Regions from separate parts of the Homo sapiens genome. Here region 2 is linked to region 1. Evidence: fine-mapped QTL for protein levels in blood plasma. A gene starts in region 1. The other region holds a variant in brackets. All regions are shown on one strand. Distances are between the middles of the regions. Region 1 holds the start of FSTL3 (follistatin like 3). Region 2 holds the start of PRSS57 (serine protease 57).

Region 1 (14,596 bases):
AGCCTGGGGTGTTCCGCCCTTGCCAGGCGCGAGTCTGGGGCTGCCAGGACCTTCCCCCAGGAGGCGTCGGGGAGGGCGGGGCGCTGGACGGCCCTCCTGGCCTGGGGAGCGATTCCAGGGGAGGGGGCCCCCCACAGCCCTAGGCCTCTGAACCAGGAGCTGCCCCGCAGCCCCGCTGCTCAGACAGGGATATTGAGGTCCTGCTAGGGAAGCTCTCTCTGGGGTCCCCGCCCCCGCTTTCAATGTGAATGCTCATCGCCTCCTAGGCTTATCGCATCTTCCCAAGTCATCATTTTACAGATGGGGAAACTGAGGCCGGGTCGCAGCTATGAGTGCAGGGGCCCAAGCACCTCAGTTTGAAAGCTGCAGCCAGGACCCAGATGACCAACCCCCTTTCTGTTATCTGGGGGTCTGGTAGGGCCTCTGAACACAGCTGTTGAGTTTATGTGCCAGCCTCAGTTTCTCTGTGTGTAAAGTGGGGCTGACGAGGGAGCCCCACTTCCAAGGCAGTGCGGCACTCCTTAGGGGATGGCCAGCGCCCGCCACGCAGCCCTTGCAGGGCATGTGGGCCGCACCTGGGCGGCCCCGGCACAGCGGCTCACAGGCACATCTGGAAATGCTCGGCCAGGGTGGCTTTTATGCGAGCGAGAACGGAAGGGGGCCTGAGTTCCGTCCCCAGGGCCAGATGAGGTTGGGGGTGGGGGGTCCTGGGCCGTCTCATGCCCAGGCCAGGCACTTTTTGAAGACTGTCCTTCTCCCAGAAGCCAGAGGGGGGTCTGGAGGGAGCAGGGGTATGTGGCAGTGAGTTCAGGACCACCCAGCCAGGCTGATCTGGGATTAATCACATCTCAGAGGCCAGCAGAGTTCCTCAGCCTGGCCTTCGGGTCTGCAGCCCTCAGCTTCAGCCTCCCCTTGGCTCCTCTGCCTGACCCCACCCACCAGGACCTAACCTCAAGCCATGTTCTCTCCTGATCCACTCTCCCATACCGGCCCCATCTGGCAAACTCCTAGACATCCCCCAACACCCCAGCTCTAATGCCCACCTCCTTCAAGATGTGCCCCAACAGGCCAGGCATGGTGGCTCACGCCTGTAATCCCAGCACTTTGGGAGGCCAAGGCTGGCAGATCACTTGAGGTCAGGAGTTTGAGACCAGCCTGGCCAATGTGGTGAAACCCTGTCTCTACCAAAAACATAAAAATTAGCCAGGTGTGGTGGCGCGCGCCTGCAGTCCCAGCCCCTGGGGAGGCCGAGGAAAGAGAATCACCTGAACCTCGGAGGCCGAAGTTGCAGTGAGCCAAAATCGCACCACTGCACTCCAGCCTGGGTGACAGAGCGAGGCTCCATCTCAGGAAAAAAAAAAAAAAAAAAAAAAAAAACCATCATCCTCCAGTGCGGAGAATCTTATTCATTCGTTCTGTGCCACTCGCCAACCAAGAGCCCCTAGTCTGATGTGGGAGGCATCCTCTCAAAACAGGGTCCCGAGGCAAATGCTTGTTAAACATGCAGCTGTAACCCCACCGCAGACCCTGGAGTCTGCAGTGAAGGTCCCTGGTGTGGACATTTGGGGTCACAGGCCAGAATGGCAAACCCACCTTCCCAGGAGCTAGGTGCAAGCCAGACATTTATCGACCAGGTGGGAAGAGCCACCCAGGCAGAGAGCTCAGCCCCAGCAAAGGCTGGAGCCACGTGGTCTCTTCCTGAGTCCTGAGCTGCAAGAGGCTGGAGCCTGGGAACCGGGAAGTCCCCCCAGTCCCTCTCTGAGGCTGGGATCCCCCTGCAGCCTCCTACATACCCCTGTGACGGGCTCAGTCCCTGGACGTTCGGCCCTCGACCACCATGACTGTTTGTGGCTGGTCCTGAGCTGAGACGTCTGCCCTGCTTCTGGCCTGAGGTCTCACCTTTGCAGGGAAGGCAGTGGACAAGGCCCAAGAAGCCGAGGAGGTTGATCTTGTTCCCCGGGTGGGTGAGGTTGGACCAGGCGGTGTCAATGTTGCCGGAGGCACAGCACTCGGCCCGGGTGACATCAGTCTGGAGCACCAGGCTGCAGGTGGCCTCCTGGCCCTGCTGGAGCCAGCAAACACCACCTGCGGGCCGGGGAACGGGGTGCTCTCCTGGGCCACTCCTGACACCCAGCTTCTGGCCCGCCCACAGATGCATGCAGGTGGTGCTGAGTAGTTACGCACGGAATGATCTACCCCCACCCAGGAAGAAGGGGCAGAAAACCACATGGGTGTCCCCACCCTGGCTCCAGAACCCTGGAAATGTCTCCTCCCCTCTGAGCTCCACGTGCCCCCCCCCACAGCCTCACCACCAACCCCCACCCACCCCAGGAGGTCCCTTCCCGTACCCTCCAAGCCCCCAGGCCAGGGGCTGGCACCCTGCCCAACCCCTCAAACACCACCAAACACCAGGCACTGGGCATGTCAGGGTCAGCAGGCCCTGGAGCCGCTTCTCCCGCCTCTGCCCTCTGTCTAGACAGCACCCGAGGGCGAGGGCACGCGGAGCCCCGCGCCTGGCAGCCCCCCCACCGCCTGGCCCGCCTCTTACTCACTCCAACTTGGGAACATTCCCCTTGCATGAGCTCACTGTCTCCCCAGGGACGTGGCCTTCGGGGAGGGGGCTCTGCTCTCCCTTTGGCGCAGGGCTGGGGTGGGGTGGGGCTGCAGGGATGGGGGGTGGGGAGCCAGAGAGCCCCCCATTTCTTCCCCCGTCCCTGGGGGCAGGAACGGCCACAGCCCCCATCCCAGAGCGCTTGCTGGTTCACAGACACTGCCAGGGACCAGCTTGTGGAACGCAGCACCTTGGCACCCATCATAGGAGGGGAAACTGAGGCCAGGAGTGGGGCCGTCTCCTGCCTGGCACCTCCCGGCAAGTCCCAGGTGTGAGACTCCATGCCCCGTCTACCCAGGACCCGGGAAAGCTCTCAGCCCCAGCTGGAGGGCCTGGCTCCCGACACCCAGCACTACCTCTCGGCACCAGGACCGACCCGGACGGTCGCGGCTAGAACCCTGGCTTTGCCTGCTACAGGCTGTGTGACCCTGAGCCTCAGTTTCCCCATCTGGAAGACGGAGATGAAGAGAGCTCCGGCACTATCGGGATGGCACAGGTTCAGGGAGGGGAGAGGTAGACACTAAGCGCTCAATAAATGTCAGCGGTCATTGTGATTAGAAACCTCTGCTCTGCTGACCTCTTGGTGACCCTCCTTCAGACCTTCCCGGCTCCAGCTTGCGCCGGACACCGCCCTCGCCCCCGCCGCCGCCGCCGCGCCCCCCGACGTCCCCCCGGCCGCATTCCGCGCAGCCCCACGTGGGTGGCCCGCCCCGCCCGCCCCTCTGGCCGCCCCACTCACCGGGCGCGGGGTTCCCCGAGCCCATGGAGCTCACGAAGCCCACGGCCCAAGCCAGGGCCCCCCAGGGCAGAGGCCAGAGTGGCCCTGGCGCCCCGGGACGCATGGCGAACGCAGAGACGGCAGCGGCACCGACTTCCCAGCGCGCGGCCGGCGCTCCCTATAAAGGTCCCGCGGGCCGCGGGCGGGGCGGGGCGCGGGGCGGGGCGCGGCGCGGGAGTGGCGGGGGCGAGGCCGTGTCCCGCGCGGGGTGGGCAGGCGCCGGGCCCGGCCGCTGCGGGGGGCAGTTGGGGGCGAGCGCCCGGGTCCCCTTCCGGAGCCAGAGAATGCATTTGGGGAGATGTGGCTGGACCCAGGGCGGAACCGGGACAGGGGTGTGGGTTCGAGGTGGTGGCAGCCTTTTGGGTGGATCGAGGGGCCGTCTCCAGGAATTAAAGTGGGTTTGGGGGTCTTCAGTTTCAGGGGTGGCGGTGAGGTAACGGGGACCCAAGAGGAGCACGTCTGTGGATCCCTGCATCCCGTTTCTGTGATTTGCATGTGGTCACTTTCATGGTCCAAGTGTGGTCTGAGCCCCCCAACCCGGCCTCCTTGTTCCCGACCCGCCCCACACACCCAAAACCTCAGCTGGATATGGTTCCCTGCTCACAGCGCGGGCCGCGCACCCGTCCACCTGGCCGCTGGAGCCGGCCTGTGGGTGGGGAGTGGTTGGGTGTGGGACAGAACGGGGTGCGGCCGGGACAGACCCAGAGACACAGCTCCTTCCAGCATCTCGGACAACAGCAGGCCTCGCCCAGCCACGGCCCCCAGGGAGGCCACTGCGTGTGTGTGTGTGTGTGTGTGTGTGTGTGCGCGCGCACGCCTGGCCTTTGTCCTGGGCCCCTGGGCAGCTCTGCCCCATCAGCCCTCCAAGCCTTTGCAGACATTCCCCCAGATCACCTCAACAAGAATGTTTACTAGGTTTTTTCCTCTCCCTCCAAGATTCAGCAAACACTGTTTCCAGCAGAGGCGTTTCCAACAATGTATGACAGCGACATCTGCGTGGGCCTGGAGGCGCTGCGCCCGAGGGGGCTTTCGTGCAGCCAGACACATTTCCTACTCTGGAGCTGATTCTGTCATGGGGGCCTCCAGATTTGTCAGGCGCCCTTGGCGAGCGCAGGGGAGCCCCTCTGTTCCTGCTTCTAGGGCATCAGTGAACATCTCTTTTGGCCAGAGGGACCCTGCGGGGTGCTGGGGTGCCACGGTGACCAAGGCAGACCCCATCACACCCTCACCGAGCTCCTGGTTTGGACAACAAAATGCAGAGACAAATTAATCTATAACTTCAAGGAGTGGTAAATGCTTTCAGGAAAATACAGAAGGTTGAGGTGGTGGAGAGCGGTTGGGTGTCTGCTGGGCATGCCTGTGTCTGGCCACTCGCTGTGCCGGCATTGCCCACCCCGCAGGTGGAAACGGACGTGTCCAGCAGCCCCACGGCACAGCCCCTTCTCTGGCCTGAGTGAGATCTGTGCCCACAGAAGACACACCTGTACCCTTTCCTCCACCTTAGCTGCCCAGCCTGTGTCCCCCAGCAGCCAGTGGCCAGGGGCCAAGTTCTGCCTTAGTGGCACTGAGGGGGGACACCCCGCCGTCTTGACCTGGCCTTGGCCTCTGGCATTTCCCCCGGGAATCTCCCCGGCTTGGGGAGCAGGGCAGGGACGGGACCCTGTATTCTCACTGAGGGGGGACACCCCGCCGTCTCGACCTGGCCTTGGCCTCTGGCATTTCCCCCGGGAATCTCCCCGGCTTGGGGAGCAGGGCAGGGACGGGACCCTGTGTTCTCACTGAGGGGGGACACCCCGCCGTCTCGACCTGGCCTTGGCCTCTGGCATTTCCCCCGGGAATCTCCCCGGCTTGGGGAGTGGGGCAGGCACAGGACCCTGTGTTCTCACTGACGGGGGACACCCCGCCGTCTCGACCTGGCCTTGGCCTCTGGCATTCCCCCGGGACTCTCCCGGGATTGGGGAGTGGGGCAGGGATGGGACCCTGTGTTCTCACTGAGGATGTGCGGGGGCTGGACAGTGTGACCTTGGCCAAGACCTGACCCCGCCGTGGCTTGGCCACTCCGGCCTGGGCTGTGCGAATCAAAGGGTCATTGTCTGGCTGGCGTGGGTTCCGGCCCTCTCCGGGGAAACCGAGGCCAGCTGCCAGTGGCCTCCTGCTCCCGGCTCTGTCTTCCCTAACCCAGAGGCTCTGTGCAGGGTGACCTCTAACAGGTCACTGACCCTTTCCAGAGCGCCGCCTCCTCCTGAGACCCCAGTGATGACCTCCCCTCTCCCGGCTCTGCCCCTCTCCCCACCCTATCCAGGCCCGAGGCTCATCCTAGGACTTCCAGCCCGCAGCCTGGCCCCTGCGGCCCACTTCCTACCCCAGCTGCCATAACACTTCTCCCTGGCTCAGACACCCACCGTGGCTCCTCGTGGCCTCTGCTCACCCCCCAGGCTTCTGTCTCCCTCCAGGTACATCCTGACAGGTAAACAGACAGTGACAATCCAGTGTTGTTCTGTGGCGGAGGATGCCCAGATGGCAAAGGTGCCCCAGGCCTGACCCGGGCCTGGGGGAGACTGAGGAAGGCTTCCCAGAGGAAAGAGACGTTGAGGTTGAGACTCGAACGTCAGACGGAGCGGCAGGGGTGTGCGCTGGAAACAGACGCTTGTGCTGTGAGTGAGGGGGAGAGCAGTGGGGGGTGGTCAGCAGAACGGCGGTCCCAGAGACCATGGGGCCCTCATCCCTAGAACCCGTGGGTGTCCCACCCTCCCTGGCCAAAGGGGCTCTGCAGATGGGACTGAGTTGAGGGCTTTCACACAGGGGTTCATCCTGGGTTATACGGATGGCCCACTGTCCTGGAAGGGTCCGTAGAAGAGGAGATGCCTGGCCGGGCGCGGTGGTTCACACCTGTGAACCACCAACACATTAGGTTCACACCTGTGAACCTCCAACACATTAGGAGGCCGAGGCAGGCAGATCACTTGAGGTCAGGAGTTCGAGACTAGCCTGGCCAACATGGTAAAACCCTGTCTCTACTAAAAATACAAAAAAATTAGGTGGGCCTGGTGGTGTGCGCCTGTAATCCCAGCACTTTGGGAGGCCGAGGCAGGAGGATCACTTGAAGTCAGGAGTTCGAGACTAGCCTGGCCAACATGGTAAAACCCCGTCTCTACTAAAAATACAAAAAAATTAGGTGGGCCTGGTATTGTGCACCTGTAATCCCAGCTACTTGGGAGGCTGAGGCAGGAGAATCACTTGAACCTGGGAGGCAGAGGTTGAAGTGACCCGAGATCGTGCCACTGCACTGCAGCCTGGGTGACAGAGCGAGACTCTGTCTCAAAAAAAAAAAAAAAAAAAAGGAGACGCCTGCCCTCTATGGTTAGAGACAGGATAAGAGAAGGACTTGGCTGCCATTGCGGGATTTGGAGATGGAGGAAGGGGGCTCAAGCCAGGGAATGTGGGCGGCCTCTAGGAGCCTGGAAAGGCGCGGAACAGATTCTCTCCTGGAGCTGCCAGAAGGAATGCAGCTCTGCCAACACCTCGATCTTCTCCCAGCCAGACCCGTGTGGAACTTTTTTTTTTTTTTTTTTGAGACGTAGTCTCGTTCTGTTGCTTAGGCTGGAGTGCAATGGCGCGATCTCGGCTCACTGCAACCTCCGCCCCCGGGTTCAAGCAATCCTTCTGCGTCAGCCTCACGAGTAGCTGGGATTGTAGGCACCTGCCACCACAACTGGCTAATTTTTGTATTCTTAGTAGAGACGCGGTTTCGCCATGTTGGCCAGGCTGGTCTTGAACTCCTGACCTCAGTGATTCACCCGCCTTGGCCTCCCAAAGTGCTGGGGTTACAGGTGTGAGCCACCATGCCTGGCCATTTTTATTTTTTTGAGACAGGGCCTCACTCTGTTGTCCAGGCTGGAGTGCAGAGGTGCGATCTCGGCTCACTGCAACCTCAGCCTCCAGACTAAGTGGGATTACAGGCGCCTCCCACCACACCCGGCTACTTTTTTTTTTTTTTTTTGCAGTGACGGGATTTTGCCATGTTGGTCAGGCTGGTCTCAAACTCCTGACCTCAGGTGATCTGCCCATCTTGGCCTCACAAAGTGCTGGGATTACAGGCATGAGACACTGCGCCCAGCCCGTGTGTTGCTTTAAGCCAGGCAGTTTGTGCAAATTTGTTATAGCAGCCGTGGGTGCCCACTGTGTGCCAGGCCCTGGGACCCTTCTAGGCCTGTTTTCTTTTTCTTTCTTTTTTTTTTTTTTTGAGACAGAGTTTCGCTCTTGTTGCCAAGGCTGGAGTGCAGTGGCGCAATCTCGGCTCACTGCAACCTCTGCCTCCCGGGTTTAAGCAATTCTCTTGCCTCAGCCTCCTGAGTAGCTGGAATTACAGGCATGCACCAGCAGACCCAGCTAATTTTTTGTATTTTTAGTAGAGATGGGTTTCACCATGTTGGCCAGGCTGGTCTCGAACTCCTGACCTCTGGCGATCCAGCTGCCTTGGCCTCCCAAATTGCTGGGATTACAGGCGTGAACCACCGTGCCCAGCCTATGCCTGTTTTCTTATCTGTAACATGGGCACAGACCCCAGTGTTAGAGGTTCCAGGTGGGATGTGGACAGTGCCAGGCGCACAGTAGGGCCATGGCGTGCATAGATTCCTGTTAATTACCCAGTCAATGGGTGCTCGTGCAGAACGGGACCATGGTGAGTCCCCTTTGCTGCTTGCTGGGAGGCTGTGAGGCAGGCGCCCCATTTATAGGGATGAGGTTGGAGGGTGGGAAGTGATTTTCTTGGAGTCACACAGACCTGCAGAGTCAGGACTAGGGTCAGCACCAGGTTCAGAAGCTTCCAGGACCCCTGTGCCTCCCATGGACCACACGACGAGGGCCAGCCTGGGGCTGGTTCCCCCTTTCTGCTCCCACTACTGCACTCCAGCCCGGGTGACAGAGTGAGACTCTGTCTCAAAAAAAACACAAAACCACCAGGACGAGTCAGTCCTGGAATTTTTTTTTTTTTTTAAGATGGAGTCTTGCTCTGTTGCCCAGGCTGGAGTGCAGTGGCGTGATCTCAGCTCACTGCAACCTCTGCCTCCCAGGTTCAAGCGATTCTCCTGCCTCAGCCTCCCGAGCAGCTGGGACTATAGGCGCCCACCACCACGCCTGGCTAATTTTTGTATTTTTAGTAGAGACAGGGTTTCACCATATTGGCCAGGCTGGTCTCGAACTCCTGACCTCATGATCCGCCGGCCTCGGCCTCCCAAAGTGCGGGGATTACAGGTGTGAGCCACCACGCCTGGCCAACGGCCCTGGAATTTTGCTGGGAGAGGGACAGGGACACCTGCTTCCTGCTGGGGCTGGAGAGGTGTGAGCCTGAAATTGCAGGTGGCTCTTTCTGATGGCTAGGGAGAGGCCAGCCCCGTGGGCCACAGAGCCAAAGGGGACAGCAACAATTCCCAGTGACATTGGAGGTCCCTGGATCCAGCTGTGCCTGAACTCCTCCTCCGCAGGGAGATGAAGCCAGTTTAAACCGAGTTTCTGTACCTTGGAGCTGATAATAATAACCATCTTTGTAGTCAGCAGGTTTGCATTCATGCAAGGAGAGCCTTTAGGACCCAGAGCAGCGTGTTCTGTGGGGCTCTAGGGAGCTCACCCTGCGGTACCACCTTCGGCCTCCAGGATGGGAAGCGGGTTGTGGCTTGGTACAGAACAGTCAGGGACACCCGGTCCCACCTTCCTGAGCCCAAAGATACTTGGCATTGGCTTACTGTCTATTGTCTGCAGCCTCTGAGCTAGAACTTGCCAACCCCTGGGCTCCAGGAGGCAAAGACTTGCTGGACTCCGGAGCCTGTGATGCTGATAACATGGCTCAGGCCTGAAGGCCTGGCCTGGTGGGCGGTGTGGGAACACTGGGAAGTGAGCTGGGCCCTAAAACAACCCCATCAGCCGGGTGCGGTGTGAGCTGGGCCCTAAAGCAACCCCACTGGCCAAGTGCCACGGCTCACATCTGTAATCCCAGCACTTTGGGAGGCTGCGGCGGGCAGATCATTTGAGGTCAGGAGTTTGAGACCAGCCTGGCCAACATGGTGAAACCCCGTCTCTACTAAAAATACAAAAAAAATTAGCCGGGCGAGGTGGCACACTCCTGTAATCCCAGCTACTCGGGAAGCTGAAGCAGGAGAATCACTTGAACCCAGGAAGCGGAGGCTGCAGTGAGCCAAGATCGCGCCACTGCACTCCAGCCTGGGTGACAGTGAGACTTCATCTCAAAAAACAAAACAGCTGGGCGCAGTGGCTCACGCCTGTAATTCCTGCACTTTGGGAGGCTGAGGTAGGCAGATCACTTAAGGTCAGGAGTTTGAGACCAGTCTGGCCAACATGGTGAAACCCCATCTCTATTAAAAATACAAAAATTAGCTGGGTGTGGTGCCGGGTGCCTGTAGTCCCAGCCACTCAGGAGGCTCAGGCAGGAGAATTGCTCGAACCTGGAGGGCAGAGGTTTTGGTGAGCCGAGTTCGCACCACTGCACTCCAGCCTGGACAACAGAGCGAGACCCCCGTCTCAAAAAAAATAAATAAATAAGGCCAGGTGAGGTGGCTCACGCCTGTAATCCCAGCACTTCGGGAGGTGGAGGCGGGTGGATCACGAGGTCAGGAGATCGTGACCATCCTGGCTAACACGGTGAAACCCCGTCTCTACTAAAAATGCAAAAAATTAGCCGGGCATGGTGGCGGGCGCCTGTAGTCCCAGCTACTCGGGAGGCTGAGGCAGGAGAATGGCGTGAACCCGGGAGGCGGAGCTTGCAGTGAGCCGAGATGGCACCACTGCACTCCAGCCTGGGCGACAGAGTGAGACTCCATCTCAATAAATAAATAAATAAATAAATAAATAAATAAATAAAAGAAATCTGACATGTATCGGGGGGACCCATTCCCCCCATATTTCAATATAAATTCTTTCTATTTTCCATAAGTGTCGGCTGGCTGAGAAATAAAGAGGAAGAGTACAAAGAGAGGAATTTTACAGCTGGGCCGCCGGGGGGTGACGTCGCATGTCGGTAGGATCGTGCTGCCCCCTGAGCCTTAAACCAGCAAGTTTTTTATTAAGGGTTTCAAGAGGGGAGGGGGTGTGAGAACATGGAGTAGAGCTCATGCTTCAAAGGGCAAAAAACAGAACAAAGATCACTTGCTTCTGAGGGAACAGGAGAAAAGGCAACACAGAACTACTGATAAGGGTCCATGTTCAGCGGTGCACGTATTATCTTGATAAACATCTTGAACAAAAAATAGGGAAACGTCTGACCACAAATTCACCAGGGTGGAGTTTTTCCCCACCGTAGTAAGCCTGAGGGTACTGCAGGAGATCAGGGCGTATCTCAGTCCTTATCTCAACCACGTAAGACAGACATTCCCAGAGCAGCTGTTTATAGACCTCTCCCCAGGAATGCATTCCTTTCCCAGGGTATTAATATTAATATTGCTTGCTAGGAAAAGAATTTAGCGATATCCTCCCTACTTGCATGTCCTTTTATAGGCTCTCTGCAAGAAGAAAAATATGGCTTTTTTTGCCTGACCCTGCAGGCAGTCAGACCTTATGGTTGTCTTCCCTTGTTCCCTAAAATCGCTGTTATTCTGTTTTTTCTCAAGGTGCACTGATTTCATATTGTTCAAACACACGTTTTACAATCAATTTGTACAGTTAACACAATTATCACGGTGGTCCTGAGGTGACATACATCCTCAGCTTACGAAGATAACAGGATTAAGAGATGAGAGTAAGACAGGCGTAAGAAATTATAAAAGTATTAATTTGGGAACTGATAAATGTCCATATTAAAATGAAATCTTCACAATTTATGTTCCTCTGCCACAGCTCCAGGCGGTCCCTCCGTTCGGGGTCCCTGACTTCCCGCAACAGACATGAGTCTTGCTGGGCTAAAATCAAGTGTGTTTGGGGACTTTATTTATTTATTTTGAGGTGAAGTCTCTCACTCACTCTGTCTCTCAGGCTGGAGTGGAGTGGTGCAATCTCAGCTTACTGCAACCTCTGCTCCCGGGTTCAAGTGATTTTCATGCCTCAGCCTCCCGAGTACCTGGGATTACAGGCAGGCACCACCATGCCCGGCTAGTTTTTTTTTTTTAACAAGATGGAGTTTTGCTCTTGTTGCCTAGGCAGGAGTGAAATGGCAAGATCTTGGCTCACTGCAACTTCTGCCTCCCAGATTCAAGCGATTCCCCTGCCTCAGCCTCCCGAGTAGCTGGGATTACAGATGCCTGCTACCATGCCTGGTTAACTTTGTATTTTTAGTAGAGACAGGGTTTCTCCATGTTGGTCAGGCTGGTCTCGAAGTCCCAACTTCAGATGATCCACCCACCTCGGCCTTCCAAAGTGCTGGGATTACAGGCATGAGCCACTGCACCCGGCCATTTTTTTTTTTTTTTTTTTTTTTTTGTTAGTAGAGATGGGTTTCACCATTTTGGCCAGACTAGCCTCGAACTCCTGACCTCAAATGATCCACCCGCCTCAGCCTTCCAAAGTGCTGGGATTACGGGAATGAGCCACCGCCCCTGGCCCAGTTTGGGGCCTTTACTCTTCCGATCATGGTGCTCGATACTGTTGGGTGGATGGCTGGTTTCAGCAGACGTTTGTGGCACAGGCCCCGCTCCTGGCACAGAGCGGAGGCTCCACGACACTTGATGAAGCAACGGTGGCCCAACCCCTGCCAGGATGAGGGTGGAGGGAGGAACTGTTTCCTTCCTCAGGAGGCAGCCACAGTCCAGTCCCAAAGCTGCCGCCTCAGGCAATCGGCTTCCTCCCTGGGCCTCAGTTTCCTCATTGGTGCAATGGGGCCAGCTGCAGTTATTTCTTCCCAGGGGGGTTGGGAGAAGTGAATACACAACCACTAGGTCTACCTGGGACGTGGTCTGCCTGGGCTTGGTCTGCCTGGGACGTGGTCCACCTGGGCTTGGTCCGCCTGGGACGTGGTCTGCCTGGGACGTGGTCCGCCTGGGCTTGGTCTGCCTGGGACGTGGTCTGCCTGGGACATGGTCCGCCTGGGACGTGGTCCACCTGGGCTTGGTCCGCCTGGGACGTGGTCCGCCTGGGACGTGGTCCACCTGGGCTTGGTCCGCCTGGGACGTGGTCCGCCTGGGACGTGGTCCGCCTGGGCTTGGTCCGCCTGGGACGTGGTCCGCCTGGGACGTGGTCCGCCTGGGACGTGGTCCGCCTGGGCTTGGTCTGCCTGGGACGTGGTCCACCTGGGCTTGGTCTGCCTGGGACGTGGTCCACCTGGGCTTGGTCTGCCTGGGACGTGAGAATGAGCTGTCAACACACCTCTCTGCCCCGGAGGGAGTGGCGCGTGTCATTCCTTTAGGAGTCCTCTCGTCTCATGTTTGCCGAGGCCCCCAGGGTTCACGGGGACGGGATCCTGAATTGAAAAAGGGGCTAAGAGAGCTCACGGAACCAAGCCCACACCTGTCGAGGTCCCTGGTGAGAGGAAATGGGAGAAACGGTGCCGTCTGTGGAACCAGGGTGGCCGGTGGGGCCTGGGGCAGGGTGCAAGTGTGTGCATTTGTGTGCAGCAGTGTCAGTGCCCACTGGCCGATTTGATCAATGTGCTACTGCCTTCAGGGAAGAGCAGCCTGCTTTTTGGTGTGTTTGGGATAAAGGGGTGGCCGGGCACTCTGGCTCACACCTGTGATCCCCACACTTTGGGAGGCCAAGGTGGGAGGATCCCGTGAGCCCAGGAGTTGGAGATCACTCTGGGCAACATAGCCAGATCCTATCTCTACAAAATAAAAATTTAAAACGATTAGCCTCACGCCTGTGATCCCAGCACTTTGGGAGGCTGAGGTGGGCGGATCACCTGAGGTCAGGAGTTGGAGACCAGCCTACTTAACATGGAGAAACTCCGTCTCTACTAGAAGGACAAAAATTAGCCGGGCGTGGTGGCACATGCCTGTAATCCCAGCTACTTGGGAGGCTGAGCCAGGATAATCGCTTGATCCTAGGAGGCAGAATTTGCAGTGAGCCCAGATCATGCCACTGCACTCCAGCCTGGGCGGCAGAGGGAGACCCATCTCAAACAAAACAAAACAAAACAAAACAAAACAAAAAAGATGGGGTCTCCATCTGTGGCCCAGGCTGGAGTGCAGTGGTCCGATCTCAGCTCACTGCAACCTCTGCCTCCTGCTCAAGTGATCCTTCTGTCTCAGCCTCCTGAGTAGGTGGGATCACAGGTGCCCGCCACCACACCTGGCTAATTTTTGTATTTTTAGTAGAGACACGGTTTCACCATGTAGCCCAGGCTGGTCTTCAACTCCTGGACTCAAGTGATCCTCCTGCCTCAGCCTCTCAAGGTGCTGGGATTACAGGCATGAGCCACTGTCCCCGGCCTAATTCTATTTTTGTAGAGACAGGGTCTCACTATGTTGCTCAGGATGGTTTTGAACTCCTGGTCTCAGGCGTGAGCCACCTCGCCCTGCTTAGTTTGATACAAAATCCCTACGTTCCTTCTCATTCCCACTGTGTTTCCAGCACCTGCTTGAGCCCAGCACACAGTAGACACTCGGCAACTGTTGGTGCATTTGGGAATCTACTGAACACCTACTGGTGCGCTGGGTATTGGCCTCACATATGGGGAGACGCCATTAATAACCCACAGATGTGAGGATGGCTGTGGGGGATGGAAAGGGGGCTCTGAGAAGTGGGGTGCAGTGGTGGATGGGGCAGCCTCCTAAAAACCAGGGGAAAGGGCCGGGCGCGGTGGCTCACGCCTGTCATCCCAGCACTTTGGGACGCCGAGGTGGGCGGATCACCTGAGGTCAGGAGTTCGAGACCAGCCTGGCCAACATGGCGAAACCCCAGCTCTACTAAAAATACAAAAATTAGCCGGGCGTGGTGGCGCATGCCTGTGATCCCAGCTACTCGGGAGGCTGAGGCAGGAGAATCGCTTGACCCCTGGAGGCGGAGGTTGCAGTGAGCTGAGATCGCACCATTGCACTCCAGCCTGGGCAACAGAGTGAGACTCCATCTCAAAAAAAAAAAAAAAAAAAAAAAAAAGCAGGGGAAGGAGAGGGGACTTGGGGAAGGGCACAGCCTTGCAAGGCCCAGAGGTGGGAACCTGCTTAGCCCACCCAAGGGGGCCAGTGAGGCTGGGGAGGGGTCAGCGAGGGGCAGGTGACTCGGGGCAGGCAGCAGAGCACAGAGAGGGCTGAGGAGGTGCCAGCGGTCCT
Region 2 (14,700 bases), 19 kb before region 1:
CTCTCCCTACTGTGTCCCCATCAGCGACCGGGACAGGGACAGCATCGTGAGGGAACAAAGTTCCACACGCCTGCAGCTTCGGGCAATTCTCCTTCTAACGCCCGTGGAGCTGGGGACGTTTTCCAGGTCTCTGCCTCAGTGCTCCGCGACGGAGGGCAGCAGGGGAGGTAGGAGCAAGTCCAGGGGACCCACTCGTGCTGACGCGACGACCGTGGAGACCAGAGTGCCTGCTGTCCAGTCGTTTGACAATATTGACGGACAGCCGGGTGCGATGGCTCACGCCTGTAATCCCAGCACTTTGGGAGGCCGAGGCAGGCCGATCACTTGAGCTCAGGAGTTTGAGACCAGCCTGGGCAATATGGCAAAACCCATCTCTACCAAACAAATAAAACAAAACAAAACAAAAAAACACAAAAATTAGCCGGGCGTGGTGGCAGGCACCTGTAATCCCACCTACTTGGGAGGCTAAGGCAGTAGGATCGCTTGAACTCAGGAGGCAGAGGATGCAGTGAGCCGAGATCAAACCACTGCACTCCAGCCTGGGCGACAGAAGGAGACCCTGTCTCTAAAAGATAAAAACAGGGCCGGGCGCAGTGGCTCATGCCTGTAATCCCAGCATTTTCGGAGGCCAAGGCGGGCGGATCACGAGGTCAGGAGTTCAAGACCAGCCTGGCCAACATGGTGAAACCCCATCTCCACTAAAAATACAAAAAATTGGCCGGGCGTGGGGGCAGACGCCTGTAGTCCCAGCTACTGGGGAGGCTGAGGCAGGAGAATCGCTTGAACCCGGGACACTGAGGTTGCAGTGAGCTGAGATCACGCCACTGCACTCCAGCCTGGCGACAGATCGAGACTCCATCTAAAAAAAAAAAAAAAAACACCCACACACAAAAAAACAATATTGATGGAGCACGGCCCATGCGGTCACAGCGATGCCAGACGGTCCAGTAGACCACAGCAGAGCAGGAAATGGTCCCCAAGTACACGGACCCTGAGCTGGGGTCCCACCTGTCCCCAGGCCCTGGAAACAGCTTTCCATTTCCCAAAATCTTTCCTGCAGCTGCTGTAACGAATTCCCAGAAACGTAGTGGTTTAAAATGATACCAACTTGGGCCAGACATGGTGGCTCACACCTGTAATCCCAGCACTCCGGGAAGCCGAGGCTGGAGGATTGCTCGAGGCCAGGAGTTCAAGACCAGCCTGGGCAACATGGCAAAACCCCGTCTCCACAAAAAATGAAATAATGAGCCGGGCCTGGTGGTGGCAGGTGCCTGTGGTCCCAGCTACTTGGGAGGCTGAGGTGGGAGGATGGCTTGAGCCTAGGAGGTCGAGGCTGCAGTGAGCTTTGATTGCACTGCTGCACTCCAGCGTGGGCGGCAGAGCAAGACCCTGTCTCCCTGTCTCAAAATAAATATATACATAATAAATGAGGCTGGGCGCGGTGGCTCACACCTGTAATCCCAGCACTTTGAAAGGCTGAGGCAGGCAGATCACGAGGTCAGGAGATTGAGACCATCCTGGCTAACGTGGTGAAACCCCATCTCTACTAAAAATACAAAATATCAGCCGGGCGTGGTGGCGGGCACCTGTAGTCCCAGCTACTTGGGAGGCTGAGGAAGGAGAATGGCATGAACCCAGGAGGCGGAGCTTGCAGTGAGCCGAGATCGCACCACTGCAGTCTGGCCTAGGCGAAAGAGCGAGACTCCATCTCAAGAAAATATAATAATAATAATAATAAACGAAATGGCACCAATTTATTCTCTGGCAGTGCTGGAGGTCAGAAGCCCCTGCAGGCCCTTCTGGGCTAACGTCAGGGCATCGGTAGGGCTGGCTTTTCCCGGAGGCTCCAGGAGAAAATTCGTTTCCTGCCGTTTTTTAGCTTCCAGAGGCCGCCCGCATCTCGCAGAGCCCGAGTTCGTTGTGGGGCCTTTTCATACCTTCCTTTCCACGCATTTCCTGTTGCTTCATTTCACTTCATTCTTTATTGAGAACACTTTACATTTGGTAAAACACAGGTCTGGAGCGTTCAATGATGACTTTTTTTTTTTTTTTTTTTTTGAGATGGTGTCTCGCTCTGTCACCCAGGCTGGAGTGCAATGGTGCAATCTTGGCTCACTGCCACCTCCACCTCCCGGTTCAAGCGATTCTCCTGCCTCAGCCTCCCAAGTAGCTGGGATTACAGGCACCTGCCACCACGCCTGACTAATTTTGGTACTTTAAGTAGAGACGGGGTTTCACTATGTTGGCCAGGCTGGTCTTGAACTCCTGACCTCAGGTGATCCACCTGCCTCGGCCTCCCAAAGTGCTAGGATTATAGGCGTGAGCCACTGCACCCGGCCCCAGCCTGTTCATTATTAAGCGCTGACGAGCACCCCACTGCTAGCCACTGCCGTGAACGCCATCACCCGGCTGTGTGAGCTGCAATTTACGACCTGAACTTTGCCACTAAGAACGCTCCCACTGAAAGGTGAAGACCTGCCGGGCTGGGCGCGGTGGCTCAGGCCTGTCATCCCAGCACTTTGGGAGGCTGAGGCAGGTGGATCACCTGAGGTCGGGAGTTCGAGACCAGCCTGACCAACATGGAGAAACTCCGTCTCTACTAAACACACAAATTTAGCGGGGCGTGGTGGTGGGCACCTGTAATCCCAGTTACTCAGGAGGCTGAGGAAGGAGAATCCCTTGAACTCAGGAGACAGAGGTTGCGGTGAGCCAAGATCGCGCCACTGCACTCTAGCCTGGGCAACAAGAGCAAGATTCCTTCTCAAAAAAAAAAAAAAAAAAAAAAAGGCCGGGCACCGTGGCTCATGCCTGTAATCCCAGCACTTTGGGAGGCCGAGGCGGGCGGATCATGAGGTCAGGAGATCGAGACCATCCTGGCTAATATGGTGAAACCCCGTCTCTACTAAAAATACAGAAACAAAATTAGCCGGCTGTGGTGGCGGGCGCCTGTAGTTCCAGTTACTCGGGAGGCTGAGGAACGAGAATCACTCGAACCCGGGAGGTAGAGGTTGCGGTGAGCCGAGATGGTGCCATTCCACTCTAGCCTGGGCAACAAGAGCAAGACTCCATCTCAAAAAAAAAAAGAAAAGAAAAAAAAGGTGAAGACCCCCATGTACAGCCATGTCCCACTGGACTCCGGATCCCACAGAACGTCAGTGCTACAGGCTGGGGTGCGGTCACTGCCTCATCCTCACCTCCTAGCATGAGGTCTGGTATACACTAGGCACTCAATAACTGCTGAATAAAGGCAGAAATCTGCCAGGTGCAGTGGCTGTCTTCTGTGATCTCAGCACTTTGGAAGGCCGAGGAGGGAGGATCGCTGGAGCCCAGGAGTTCGAGACCAGCCTGGGCAACATAGCAAAACCCCACCTATAAAAATAAAATAAAATAAAGGCAGAAATCATCAGAGCTTCCCAGGAGACCGGCCTTCCTCGCTGTCCCCACAGCCCTGAGGTCGGCCCTGGGTTTGGAGATGGGAAGACTGGGGTTTGCGGGGTGGGGGCCGGAGGCGAGCTGCGGGTCTCGAGTGCCGCTGTGACCTCGGTTCCTCGGAAAGCTCCCCACACATGCTGGGCCACGTGGAGGCTGGGTAAACTGAGGCACAGAAGGGTCAATTGCCTTCCCGAGGTCACTTGCAGCCCCAGAGCTGTCTCCTCCTCTCCCTGTTTCCGGACTAGGGGACAATGATTATTATCAACATGATTATTACCAGCCACCACCTGAGACCATCGATTTCTCAGAAACGCCCGCCTGGGCTCCAGGCGTTGCTGGTGGGGCCTCCCGACCACAGGCCACAGCCAGGCTCCCCCTTTCCGGCCGTTGGCTGAGGGTGGGAGCCACGGCCCGAAGACCTCTGCGGGGAGACGCCAGCCTGCGTCTGCCATGGGGCTCGGGTTGAGGGGCTGGGGACGTCCTCTGCTGACTGTGGCCACCGCCCTGATGCTGCCCGTGAAGCCCCCCGGTGAGGAGCCCCCCGGGATCCCCACCCAGGCCCCCGCCAAGTCCCCGTACGGGGGCCACACCCGGGAACCCCCAGTCCCGGGAGAACCCTGGGGAGAGCTCCACCTGCTCCATCTGCCGAGCCCCCGTGGCTGCCTCTGCTGGAAATGGATGGAAATCCGGCCGGGGTCTCTGCCCAGCCCAGCCCTGGATCTCCCGGGCTCGGGAGCCCCTCCCAGCGCATCTGGGGGGCTTGTCTGGGCTCTGTCTCCAGCTCTCTGGGTCTCTCCGTCTCTAATCTCACCCCCTGTCTCTGTCTTGGCCGCTACTTCTCCCCCTGCCCTGACCCCAGCCCCGTCATCCGTTCCTCCCGCCTCGTCCCTGACTCAGGCCGTCCCTCCAGCAGGCTCCTGGGGGGCCCAGATCATCGGGGGCCACGAGGTGACCCCCCACTCCAGGCCCTACATGGCATCCGTGCGCTTCGGGGGCCAACATCACTGCGGAGGCTTCCTGCTGCGAGCCCGCTGGGTGGTCTCGGCCGCCCACTGCTTCAGCCACAGGTGAGCTCACCTGTCGGGCCCCTTCTTTCTGGACACCGTATCCCGACATGAGGGGGACTCCAGGCTGGTGGGGGAGCTGGGGGCGCCGTGGCTCCTGCAGGAGGGGGAGTCTCAGCAGGGGCTGGATTTAAAGGGCAACAAAGGGAAAACAGGAGGATAAGGCAGGGAGGCAAAAGAAGCACAGAAGAAGCAACAGGCGCAACAAGTACATATTCTGTTACTGTAACTGTCACTATGTTCTTTTTTTTTTTTGAGGCAGTCTCGGTTCCCCAGGCTGGAGTGCAACGGTGCAATCTCGGCTCACTGCAACCTCCACCTCCCGGGCTCAAGCGATTCTCCTGCCTCAGCTTCCCGAGTAGCTGGGATCACAGGCGCCCACCACCACACCTGGCTAATTTTTGCATTTTTAGTAGAGACTGGATTTCACCATGTTGGCCAGGCTGGTCTCGAACTCCTGACTTCAAATGATCCACCCGCCTCTGCCTCCCAAAGTGCTGGGATTGCAGGTGTGAGCCGCCATGCCCTGCCTCGTTTTAAACATATTGTTATAATAACTATTAAAATGTATATTGGGGCCAGGGTGGGTGGGTCCCCTCCTGCAGGAGCCCCCACCAGGCACGGGATAGGTTGGTCCTGGGCTGCAGTGTCCCCAGCTCCCCCGCCAGCCTGCAGTCCCCCTCACGTTGGGACACGGTGGATTGTTTGAGGTCAGGAGTATGAGACCAGCCTGGCCAACATGGTGAAACTCTGTCTCTACTAAAAATACGAAAATTAGGCTGGGTGCGGTGGCTCATGCCTGTAATCCCAGCACTTTGGGAGGCCGAGGCAGGAGGATCACGAGGTCAGGAGATCGAGACCATCCTGGCTAATACAGTGAAACCCCATCTCTACTAAAAATACAAAAAAATTAGCCGGATGTGGTGGCAGGCGCCTGTAGTCCCAGCTACCCAGGAGGCTGAGGCAGGAGAATGGCGTGAACCCGGGAGGCGGCGCTTTCAGTGAGCCGAGATCGCGCCACTGCACTCCAGCCTGGGGGACAGAGCGAGACTCTGTCTCAAAAAAAAAATACGAAAATTAGTTGGGCATGGTAGCAAGTGGCTGTACGTATCCCCAGCTACTCGGGAGGCTGAGGTAGGAGAATCACTTGAACCCAGGAGGTGGAGGTGGCAGTGAGCCGAGATGGCACCACTGCACTCCAGCCTAGGGGAAAGAGTGAGATTCTGTCGGAAAAAAAAAAGTTAATTGTGGTTTTTGCCATTTAATTTTTTTCGTGCAATTACTTTTGCACCAACCTAATATTATCACGGGGCCGGCGTGAGCATTAAATGGATTACTGGGCCTCCATTTCATAGATGAGTGGACTGAGGCCCAGACGGGCAGCCGTCACCCCCATCTCACCCACCCCCTCCTCCCCGCAGAGTCCTCCGCACCGGAGCTGTGCTTCTGTGGTCCCAGCTACTTGAAAGGCTGCTGTGGGAGGATCGCTTGAGCCTGGGAGGTCGAGGCTGCAGTGAGCTGTGATCACACCACTGCGGCCTGGGTGACAGAGTGAGACCTTGTCTCAAAAAAAAAAAAAAAAAAAAGGCCGGGTGCGGTGGCTCACGCCTGTAATCCCGGCACTTTGGGAGGCCGAGGCAGGCGGATCACGAGGTCAGGAGATCGAGACTGTCCTGGCTAACACGGTGAAACCCTGTCTCTACTAAAAAAAAATACAAAAAATTAGCCGGATATGGTGGCGGGCGCCTGTAGTCCCAGCTATTCAGGAGGCTGAGGCAGGAGAATGGCGTGAACCCGGGAGGTGGAGCTTGCAGAGAGCCAAGATTGCACCACTGCAATCTTGCCTGGGTGACAGAGCGAGACTCCGTCTCAAAAAAAAAAATTAAAGAAATAAAAAAAGGAGAATATTGAAATTACTGTAGTTAATATTATAATTGAAATAGAACTTATAATAAATATAATAAGTATTATCTTCATTCTAAATATGTTTTTATAATAATGATTCAAATTAATACCACAACTATTGCAGTTAATTCTATATTGGAGGTAGGAAAAATAATAAACATAATTATTAATTTATTATCATAATATTAAGTTGGGGGCTGGGCACCGTGGCTCACGCCTGTAATCCCAGCACTTTGGGAGGCCGAGGCAGGTGGATCACTTCAGGTCAGGAGTTCGAGACCAGCCTGGCCAACATGGTGAAACCCTGTCTCTACTGAAAATACAAAAATTAGCTGGGAGTGGTGGCGCACGCCTGTAGTCTTAGCTGCTTGGAGGGCTGAGGCAGGAGAATCACTGGAACCCAGGAGGCAGAGGTTGCAGTAAGCCTCGATTGCACTCTAGCCTAGGGGACAGAGTGAGACTCTGTCTCAAAAAAAAAAAAAAAGAAAAAAGGAAAAGAATATTAAGTTGATGCAAAAGTAATTGTTTTTTTTTTGTTTTTTTGAGACGGAGTCTTGTTCTGTCGCTCAGGCTGGAGTGCAATGGTGCAATCTCAGCTCACTGCAACCTCCGCCTCCCAGGCTCAAGCAATTCTCCTGCCTCAGCCTCCCGAGTAGCTGGGATGACAGGCATGTGCCACCACACCTGGCTAATTTTGTATTTTTAGTAGAGACGGGGTTTCTCCATGTTGATCAGGCTGGTCTTGAACTCCCGACCTCAGGTGATCCACCCTCCTCACCCTCCCAAAGTGCTGGGATTACAGGCGTGAGCCACCGTGCCCGGCCTGGGCCTCCGTTTCATAGATGAGTGGACCGAGGCCCAGGACGGGCAGCCCTCACCCCCGTCTCACCCACCACCTCCTCCCTGCAGAGACCTCCGCACTGGCCTGGTGGTGCTGGGCGCCCACGTCCTGAGTACTGCGGAGCCCACCCAGCAGGTGTTTGGCATCGATGCTCTCACCACACACCCCGACTACCACCCCATGACCCACGCCAACGACATCTGCCTGCTGCGGGTGAGCCCCGGGGGTGGATCTGACGTATGTTTAGTTTTTGAGACAGTCTCTCGCTCTGTCGCTCGGGCTGGAGGGCAATGGCGCAATCTCGGCTCACTGCAACCTCAGCCTCCCGGGTTCAAGTGATTCTCCTGCCTCAGCCTCTCAAGTACATGGGATTACAGGTGCGCGCCACCAAGCCCATCTAATTTTTGTATTTTAGTAGAGACGGGGTTTCACCATGTTGGCCAGGCTGGTCTCAAGCTCCTGACTTCAAATGATCCACCTGCCTCGGCCTCCCAAAGGGCTGGGATTACAAGCGTGAGCCACCGAGCCCGGCCTACTTTTCTTTTCTTTTCTTTTTTTTTTTTTTTGAGTCAGAGTCTCGAACTGTCACGGGGGCTGGAGTGCAATGGCGCCATCTCGGCTCACTGTAACCTCCGCCTCCCAGGCTCAAGTGATTCTCCTGCCTCAGCCACCCAAGTAGCTGGGATTACAGGCACTCGCCACCAGACCTGGCTAGTTTTTTGTGTTTTTAGTAGAGATGGGGTTTCACTATGTTGGCCAGGCTGGTCTCGAACTCCTGACCCAGTGATCCACCCACCTCAGCCTCCCAAAGTGTTGGGATTACAGGCGTGAGCCATCGTGCCTGGCCATTTTTTTTTTCCAGGCTTAATTCACTTTATTTTTCGTGTATAAAACCCTATGTTGTAACCACAGCTGGAGCCGGGCGTCTGCACGGAGACTCTGGTGTGAGTCTTCACAAGATGGCCAGTGAATACCTGAAAGAGAGACTTGGGGAATACAGAGGTCAGGGGTCAGGCAGCTGTAGGTCTTAGAGAGGATATCAGAGGCGGCCTTGGCAAAGTGGCCCAGGGTGGCAGTGCAGCCCCTGGCTAAGGTGTAGCAGTCACCGATACCAGCCATCATGAGCAGCTTCTTGAGCACAGGCGCCCAGACGATGCCAGCGCCCCGGACACGGGGATCAGGCACACCAGCGCAGAGCCGCAGCGGCCTGTCACCTTGCCAGGGACGGTGTAGGGCTTGCCGATCTTGTTCCCCCAGTAGCCTCTGTGCATGGGGACAACGGAGAGCTTGGCCAGGATGACGGCCCCGATGATGGCAGTGGCTACCTCCTTGGAGCACTCAACACCCAGACCGACGTGGCCATTGTAGTCCCCGGTGGGAACAGACGCCTCGAACCTGGTGCGCTGGCCGGTGCGGATCTGCTTCTGCACCGGCATAATCTCCAAAACCTCGTCCTGGAGAGAGGCCCTCAGGAAAAGGTCAATGATCTCAGATTCCTTGATGGGCAGGGAGAAGAGACAGATCTCCTCCAGGGACATGATCTTTATGTCCTTGACCAGGCGGCCCAGCTTGGTGACAGGCGTCTACTCCTTATCCTCTGTCTTGCCTCTGTGAGCTCCGCGGCCCCAGCCCGGAAGCCAGTGCCGAAGCCTCGGGGGAAGCCAGCGCCGTTCCCCATCCCAGGGCCGCCCCACTGCACCGACGTCATCCGCCGTTTAGTGTTTTCCAGGAGAAGCAGCCCTGGGCTATTTTTTTTTTTTT[C/TTC]AGACAGTATCTCCCTGTGTCCCCAGGCTGGAGTGCAGTAGCACGATCTCGGCTCACTGCAGCCTCTGCCTCCCAGGTTCAAGCGATTCTCCTGCCTCAGCCCCCCGAGTAGCTGGGATTACAGGCGCCCGCCACCACGCCCGGCTAATTTTTGTATTTTTAGTAGAGATGGGGTTTCACCATGTTTGCCAGGATGGTCTCGATCTCTTGACCTCGTGATCCGCCCACCTCTGCCTCCCAATCCTGGCCTATTTTTTGAGACGGAGTCTCACTTTGGCACCTGGGCTGGAGTAAAGTGGCACAGTCAGGGCTCACTGCAACCTCCATCTCCCGGGTTCAAGCGATTCTCCTGCCTCGGCCTCCCGAGTAGCTGGGATCACAGGCACCCACCACCACACCTGGCTAATTTTTGTATTTTTAGTAGAGATGGGATTTCACCATGTTGGCCAGGCTGGTCTTAACTCCGGTCCTCAAGTGATCCGCCCACCTTGGTCTCCCAAAGTGTCGGGATCACGGGCGTGTACCACTGCGCCAGGCGAATTTTTATATTTTTAGTAGAGACGGGGTTTCACCATGTTGCCCAGGCTGGTCTTGACCTCCTGGACTCAGGCAATCCTCCTGCCTCAGCCCCGCAAAGTGCTGGGATTACAAACCTGAGCTGCTGCGCCTGGCCTGACTTAGGTTTTAAAGACAGTTGGACGTCAGGTCCCATTCCTCCTGTGCCCTGGACCCCCCAGTGGCTCCCACCTCCTGCAGGACAAATCCTCCTGGTGCCCACAGGCCCTGCTAATCCATGCCTGTCACCTTTCTGACTCGAGGCCAGCAGACCTCCCGGATGGGCCATCCCATCCCCAGCACAGTCTCCGCTCCGAGCTCTGCACCAGCTGTACCCAGTGCACCAGTTCCCCAGACACCGCGAGCCTTTCCCCTCACGCCTGTCAAGTCTTTGCTCAAATGTTACCTTCCCAGGAGGCCGCCCTGGACCACATACCCCCTCCCTGCAACCCTGTTCCAGCCCCGTCATCACCTGCTAACCCCTGGACCACCCTTCCGGCCCCGTCATCTCCTGCTAACCCCTGGACCACCCCGTCGTCACCTGCTAACCTGTGGACCACCCTTCCAGCCCCGTCGTCACCTGCTAACCCCTGGACCACCCTTCTAGCACCGTCGTCACCTGCTAACCCCTGGACCACCCTTCCGGCCCCGTCGTCACCTGCTTGTCACCTGCTAACCCCTGGACCACCCGCTTCCTCATTCCCGCTTCCTCTGAACCTAACGGGCAGGGATTTTTTATCACCTTTATGGCCATTTATGGCACACAGCAGGCGCTCAAAGTTTATGCTGAAATGGAATGAATGTGCCTCTCGGGCCCCTGCCCTGTGTGGAGGAGACGCTTAAAGTCCCTGTGTGGGGCCGGGCGTGGTGGCTCACACCTGTAACCCCAGCACTTTGGGAGGCCGAGGCGGGTAGATCATTTGAGGTCAGGAGTTTGAAACCAGACTGGCCAACGTGGTGAAACCCCATCTCTACTAAAAATAAAAAAATTAGCTGAGCCTGGTGGTGGGTGCCAGTCATCCCAGCTACTCGGGAGGCTGAGGCAGGAGAATCACTTGAACCTGGGAGGCAGAGGTTGCCGTGAGCCGAGATCGTGCCACTGCACTCCAGCCTGGGTGACAGAGTGAGACTCCATCTGAAAAAAAAAAAAAAGTCCCTGGGTGGAGTCCTCCGGGTGGGAAGCTGCTCCTCCCACACGTGGTGCATCCATGCAGACCCGCCTGGCCCCCTCCTGCTCGAGGGACGACCCCTTCCCTGACGCTTCTACCCAGCATCCCAAAATTAAATTCCAGAGGCTGAGGCAGGAGAATCGCTTGAACCCGGGAGGCGGAGGTTGCCGTGAGCCGAGATTGCGCCACTGCATTCCAGCCTGGACAACAGAGCAAGACTCTGAAAAAAACAAAAAAAAAAGGAGGAGGAGCAAGTGCCAGTAGCCAAAGCTTTTGGGTGAATTTTTCTCATCTGTGAAACCCTGAAGCCTGGAACCAGCGCTGGTTCACCCAGAGGCCATCGCACAGATGGGGAAACTGAGGCTGAGCGAGACATCAAGAATGTCAGGAATGAACCCAAGACGCACAAATCAGAGAACCAGAGACAGGGATTGGAGCCGTCCTTCCCAGGCCCATTAACTGAGCATCAGCTGTGTGCCAATTGCCAGGGCCAGGGCCAGAGGCCCGGTGCTGGGCCACACAGAGCCCGGGGTGTCACTCAGTCTTCACTGGGTAAACCGGCCTCAACAGGCTGCAGGGAGCCCAGAGAAGACTCACGTGCCAGCCTGGGAGTCTGGGAAGACTTCCTGGAAGAGGTGGCATCCATGCTGAGATGGCTGAATAGGAAAAGTGTTTCAGGCTGGGGGTCTGGTGTGAGGGGAGGTGTGTGGCAGGCCCAGGGAGTAGCTGTAAATTCATCCTGCCTGGCCAAAGGGGAGGCTGAGGCTGGAGAGCCCTCAGAGGCCCTGGCTGGTGAGCAAAGAGGTTTTGTCTTGAGGGCAATCGGGAGCCGTGGGAGGGCTTAGAGTAAGGAAGGAGATGGAGTTTGAAAGACTCTTTGAGGCTGGGCGCGGCGGCTCACTCTGTAATCCCAGCACTTTGGGAGGCTGAGGTGGGTGGATCACCTGAGGTCAGGAGTTTGAGAACAGCCTGGCCAACAGGGTGAAACCCCGTCTCTACTAAAATACCAAAATTAGCCAGGTGTGGTGGTGCACGCCTGTAATCCCAGCTGCTTGGGAGGCTGAGGCAGGAGAAATCGGTTGAACCTGGCAGGTGGAGGTTGCAGTGAGCCAAGATTGTGCCACTGCACTCCAGCCTGGGCGACAGAGCGAGACTCCATCTCAAAAAAAAGAAAAGAACAGAACAGAAAGACCCTTTGGGCAGCTGACGGTGACCCTGGAGGCCTGAGGGGTAGGGGCCTGTGTTGGCAGAAGGAACGGGGCCTCCTGACCCGGCCTCATGGTGGCCGCCATTGATTTTGCTTCACAAGGGCAGGACCAGGGGTCCCATGGATAAACTGAGGCAGGAGCGGGGGTGGGGAGGGAGCCCAGTGGCCTGAACTCATGCTCTCCCTGCAGCTGAACGGCTCTGCTGTCCTGGGCCCTGCAGTGGGGCTGCTGAGGCCGCCAGGGAGAAGGGCCAGGCCCCCCACAGCGGGGACACGGTGCCGGGTGGCTGGCTGGGGCTTCGTGTCTGACTTTGAGGAGCTGCCGCCTGGACTGATGGAGGCCAAGGTCCGAGTGCTGGACCCGGACGTCTGCAACAGCTCCTGGAAGGGCCACCTGACACTTACCATGCTCTGCACCCGCAGTGGGGACAGCCACAGACGGGGCTTCTGCTCGGTAAGATCCCCTCCCTGCTCCACCCACTTACTGTGTGGGGAAACCAAGGCCCACAGAGAGGGTCAGGGCCAGGAAGGGCCTTGGGAACTGAGTCCCATTGATGTTGGACCAGACGGAGAAGCTGAGGCCCAGGGAAGGCAGGGAGTTGGCAAGGGTCATGCAGGGCTGCCATGTTCAGCTGTGCAGGTTGCGCACTGCACAAAGAGCCAAGCACTTGTGTATTTATACAAGCAGTATTCAGTAGAGGGTAGTAACAGATTGAGAGGAAGCAGCTCCCACTCCTAAAACCTTGCCAGATAAACGAATCCCCAGGTGCCAAGGGAGACACTGGCCCTGGAGGGTCTTTTACCGCAGGCAAGAGAGCGACTTGGTTCAGGACACACACTTAGCCCAGCAGCCCGAGTCCAGGAGAAATGAGACTGTCCACTTTCCCGATGCGTGACCTTGGAAAAGTCACTTGATTTCTCTGGGCCTCTTTTTCTCCATCTGTAAAACTGCTACACTATTAGTATCCAGTTGATGGTATCAGAGCGGATTCTAGATGGCAGGAGGGTAGGATGAGGGATTTTAGGGTGAGTATACGGGGAGCCCTCTCCAAGGAGAGCACCTTTGAGCTGAGACTTGAAGGAATCCTTAGAAGATCTGAGGAAACACACGCAAGGCAGAGAGACCTGTTAGTAGAGGGCTGCCGCGTACAGCTGTGTAGGTTGTGCACTGCCCAAAACACTGCAGACTCGAATGTTCACACAGGCAGCATCCAGCGCAGGGCAGGAACAGGTCTCCAGGCTATACAAAGGCCGTGGAGCACTGAGGAGGCTCAGCGGGGAGGGCAGAGAAGTGGGTGGGGGCTGGGTCCTCAGGGCCTGGAGGGGAGAAATGAATTTACTTTTTCCTTGGAGAGCAGTAGGGAGCCACAGAGGGTTCTGAGGCAGGGAGGGCCGTGGTGAGATGTGCCTGCAGCAGCTCCCAGAGGCCCTGACCTCACCTCTCCTTTCACTCCAGGCCGACTCCGGAGGGCCCCTGGTGTGCAGGAACCGGGCTCACGGCCTCGTTTCCTTCTCGGGCCTCTGGTGCGGCGACCCCAAGACCCCCGACGTGTACACGCAGGTGTCCGCCTTTGTGGCCTGGATCTGGGACGTGGTTCGGCGGAGCAGTCCCCAGCCCGGCCCCCTGCCTGGGACCACCAGGCCCCCAGGAGAAGCCGCCTGAGCCACAACCTTGCGGCATGCAAATGAGATGGCCGCTCCAGGCCTGGAATGTTCCGTGGCTGGGCCCCACGGGAAGCCTGATGTTCAGGGTTGGGGTGGGACGGGCAGCGGTGGGGCACACCCATTCCACATGCAAAGGGCAGAAGCAAACCCAGTAAAATGTTAACTGACTTCCAGCCTCACCCGTGGGCGGTCAGCTGCAGGGTCCACCGGCATTCGTGTCGCGGCTCGGTCCGCAGCCCCTTTCCACCTTCCCATGCCCCCCACCGTGAACCCCTCTGGGTCTACCCCTGCGCCCCTGCAACCCACACTCCTGCAGCCTCCCACCTGGAATGCCGTTCCTCCACCTCCCTCCAGCCGCCTAACCACACCGCAGGCGAGTCCGCTGGGAAACGGAGGCCAGGAAGCCCTGAGCTCCCTGTGCAGGGCGTGGGGGCTGCTGGACACCAGGGCGGGCTTGCACCGGCCGCGCCGAGGAGTCCCAAGAGGGTCTGGCCACACATCAAGCCTCGTGGTCATCCTCTGAAAACCAGAGAATAGCGCGGGGTGCACAGCAAGTCCCAGGTGATGTTATTGTCACAGTTTGTTATTGTGTTATTATTTTTTTATTTTTAGATTTTATTTTCTTTATTATTATTTTATTTTTTTATCTTTACTTATTTTTATTTTGGATGGAGTCTCGCTCTGTCCCCCAGGCTGGAGTGCAGTGGTGCGATCTCGGCTCACTGCAAGTTCCGCCTCCCGGGTTCACACCATTCTCCCGCTTCAGCCTCCCAAGTAGCTGGGACTACAGGCGCCCGCCACCACACCCGGCTAATTCTTTGTATTTTTAGTAGAAACGGGGTTTCACCGTGTCAGCCAGGATGGTCTCGATCTCCTGATCTCGTGATCCACCCACCTCGGCCTCCCAGAGTGCTGGGATTACAGGCGTGAGCCACCGCGCCCGGCCTATTATTTTTTTAAGATGACGTCTCACTCTGTCACCAGGCTGGAGTGCAGTGGCGCAATCTCGGCTCATTGCAACCTCTGCCCCTGGGTTCAAGCCATTCTCCTGCCTCAGCCTCCCAACTAGCTGGGACTACAGGCATGTACCACCACACCCGG

The links. PIP is the chance, under the fine-mapping model, that this variant and not a neighbour inherited with it causes the effect. The UK Biobank Pharma Proteomics Project read protein levels with antibody pairs (Olink). The fine-mapping took linkage between variants from a reference panel, not from the people measured, so its PIPs are less certain.
Region 2: its variant is fine-mapped to the plasma level of the FSTL3 protein (UK Biobank, PIP above 0.99).

Annotation. Positions count from the first base shown.
Region 1 is chr19:665,281-679,876 of GRCh38, reverse strand. It overlaps FSTL3 (follistatin like 3), which reads right to left and starts at 3,485. Exons shown (of 5, transcript NM_005860.3): 1 at 3,351-3,485; 2 at 1,900-2,085. The coding sequence starts at 3,453. RefSeq lists a silencer at 1-174 and an enhancer at 629-1,131.
Region 2 is chr19:684,613-699,312 of GRCh38, reverse strand. PRSS57 (serine protease 57) reads left to right here and starts at 3,861. Exons shown (of 5, transcript NM_001308209.2): 1 at 3,861-3,961; 2 at 4,346-4,499; 3 at 7,311-7,455; 4 at 12,125-12,388; 5 at 13,391-13,767. The coding sequence starts at 3,883. The coding sequence ends at 13,597. It also overlaps the pseudogene RPS2P52. The variant C/TTC (reference allele first, on the strand shown) is at 9,004.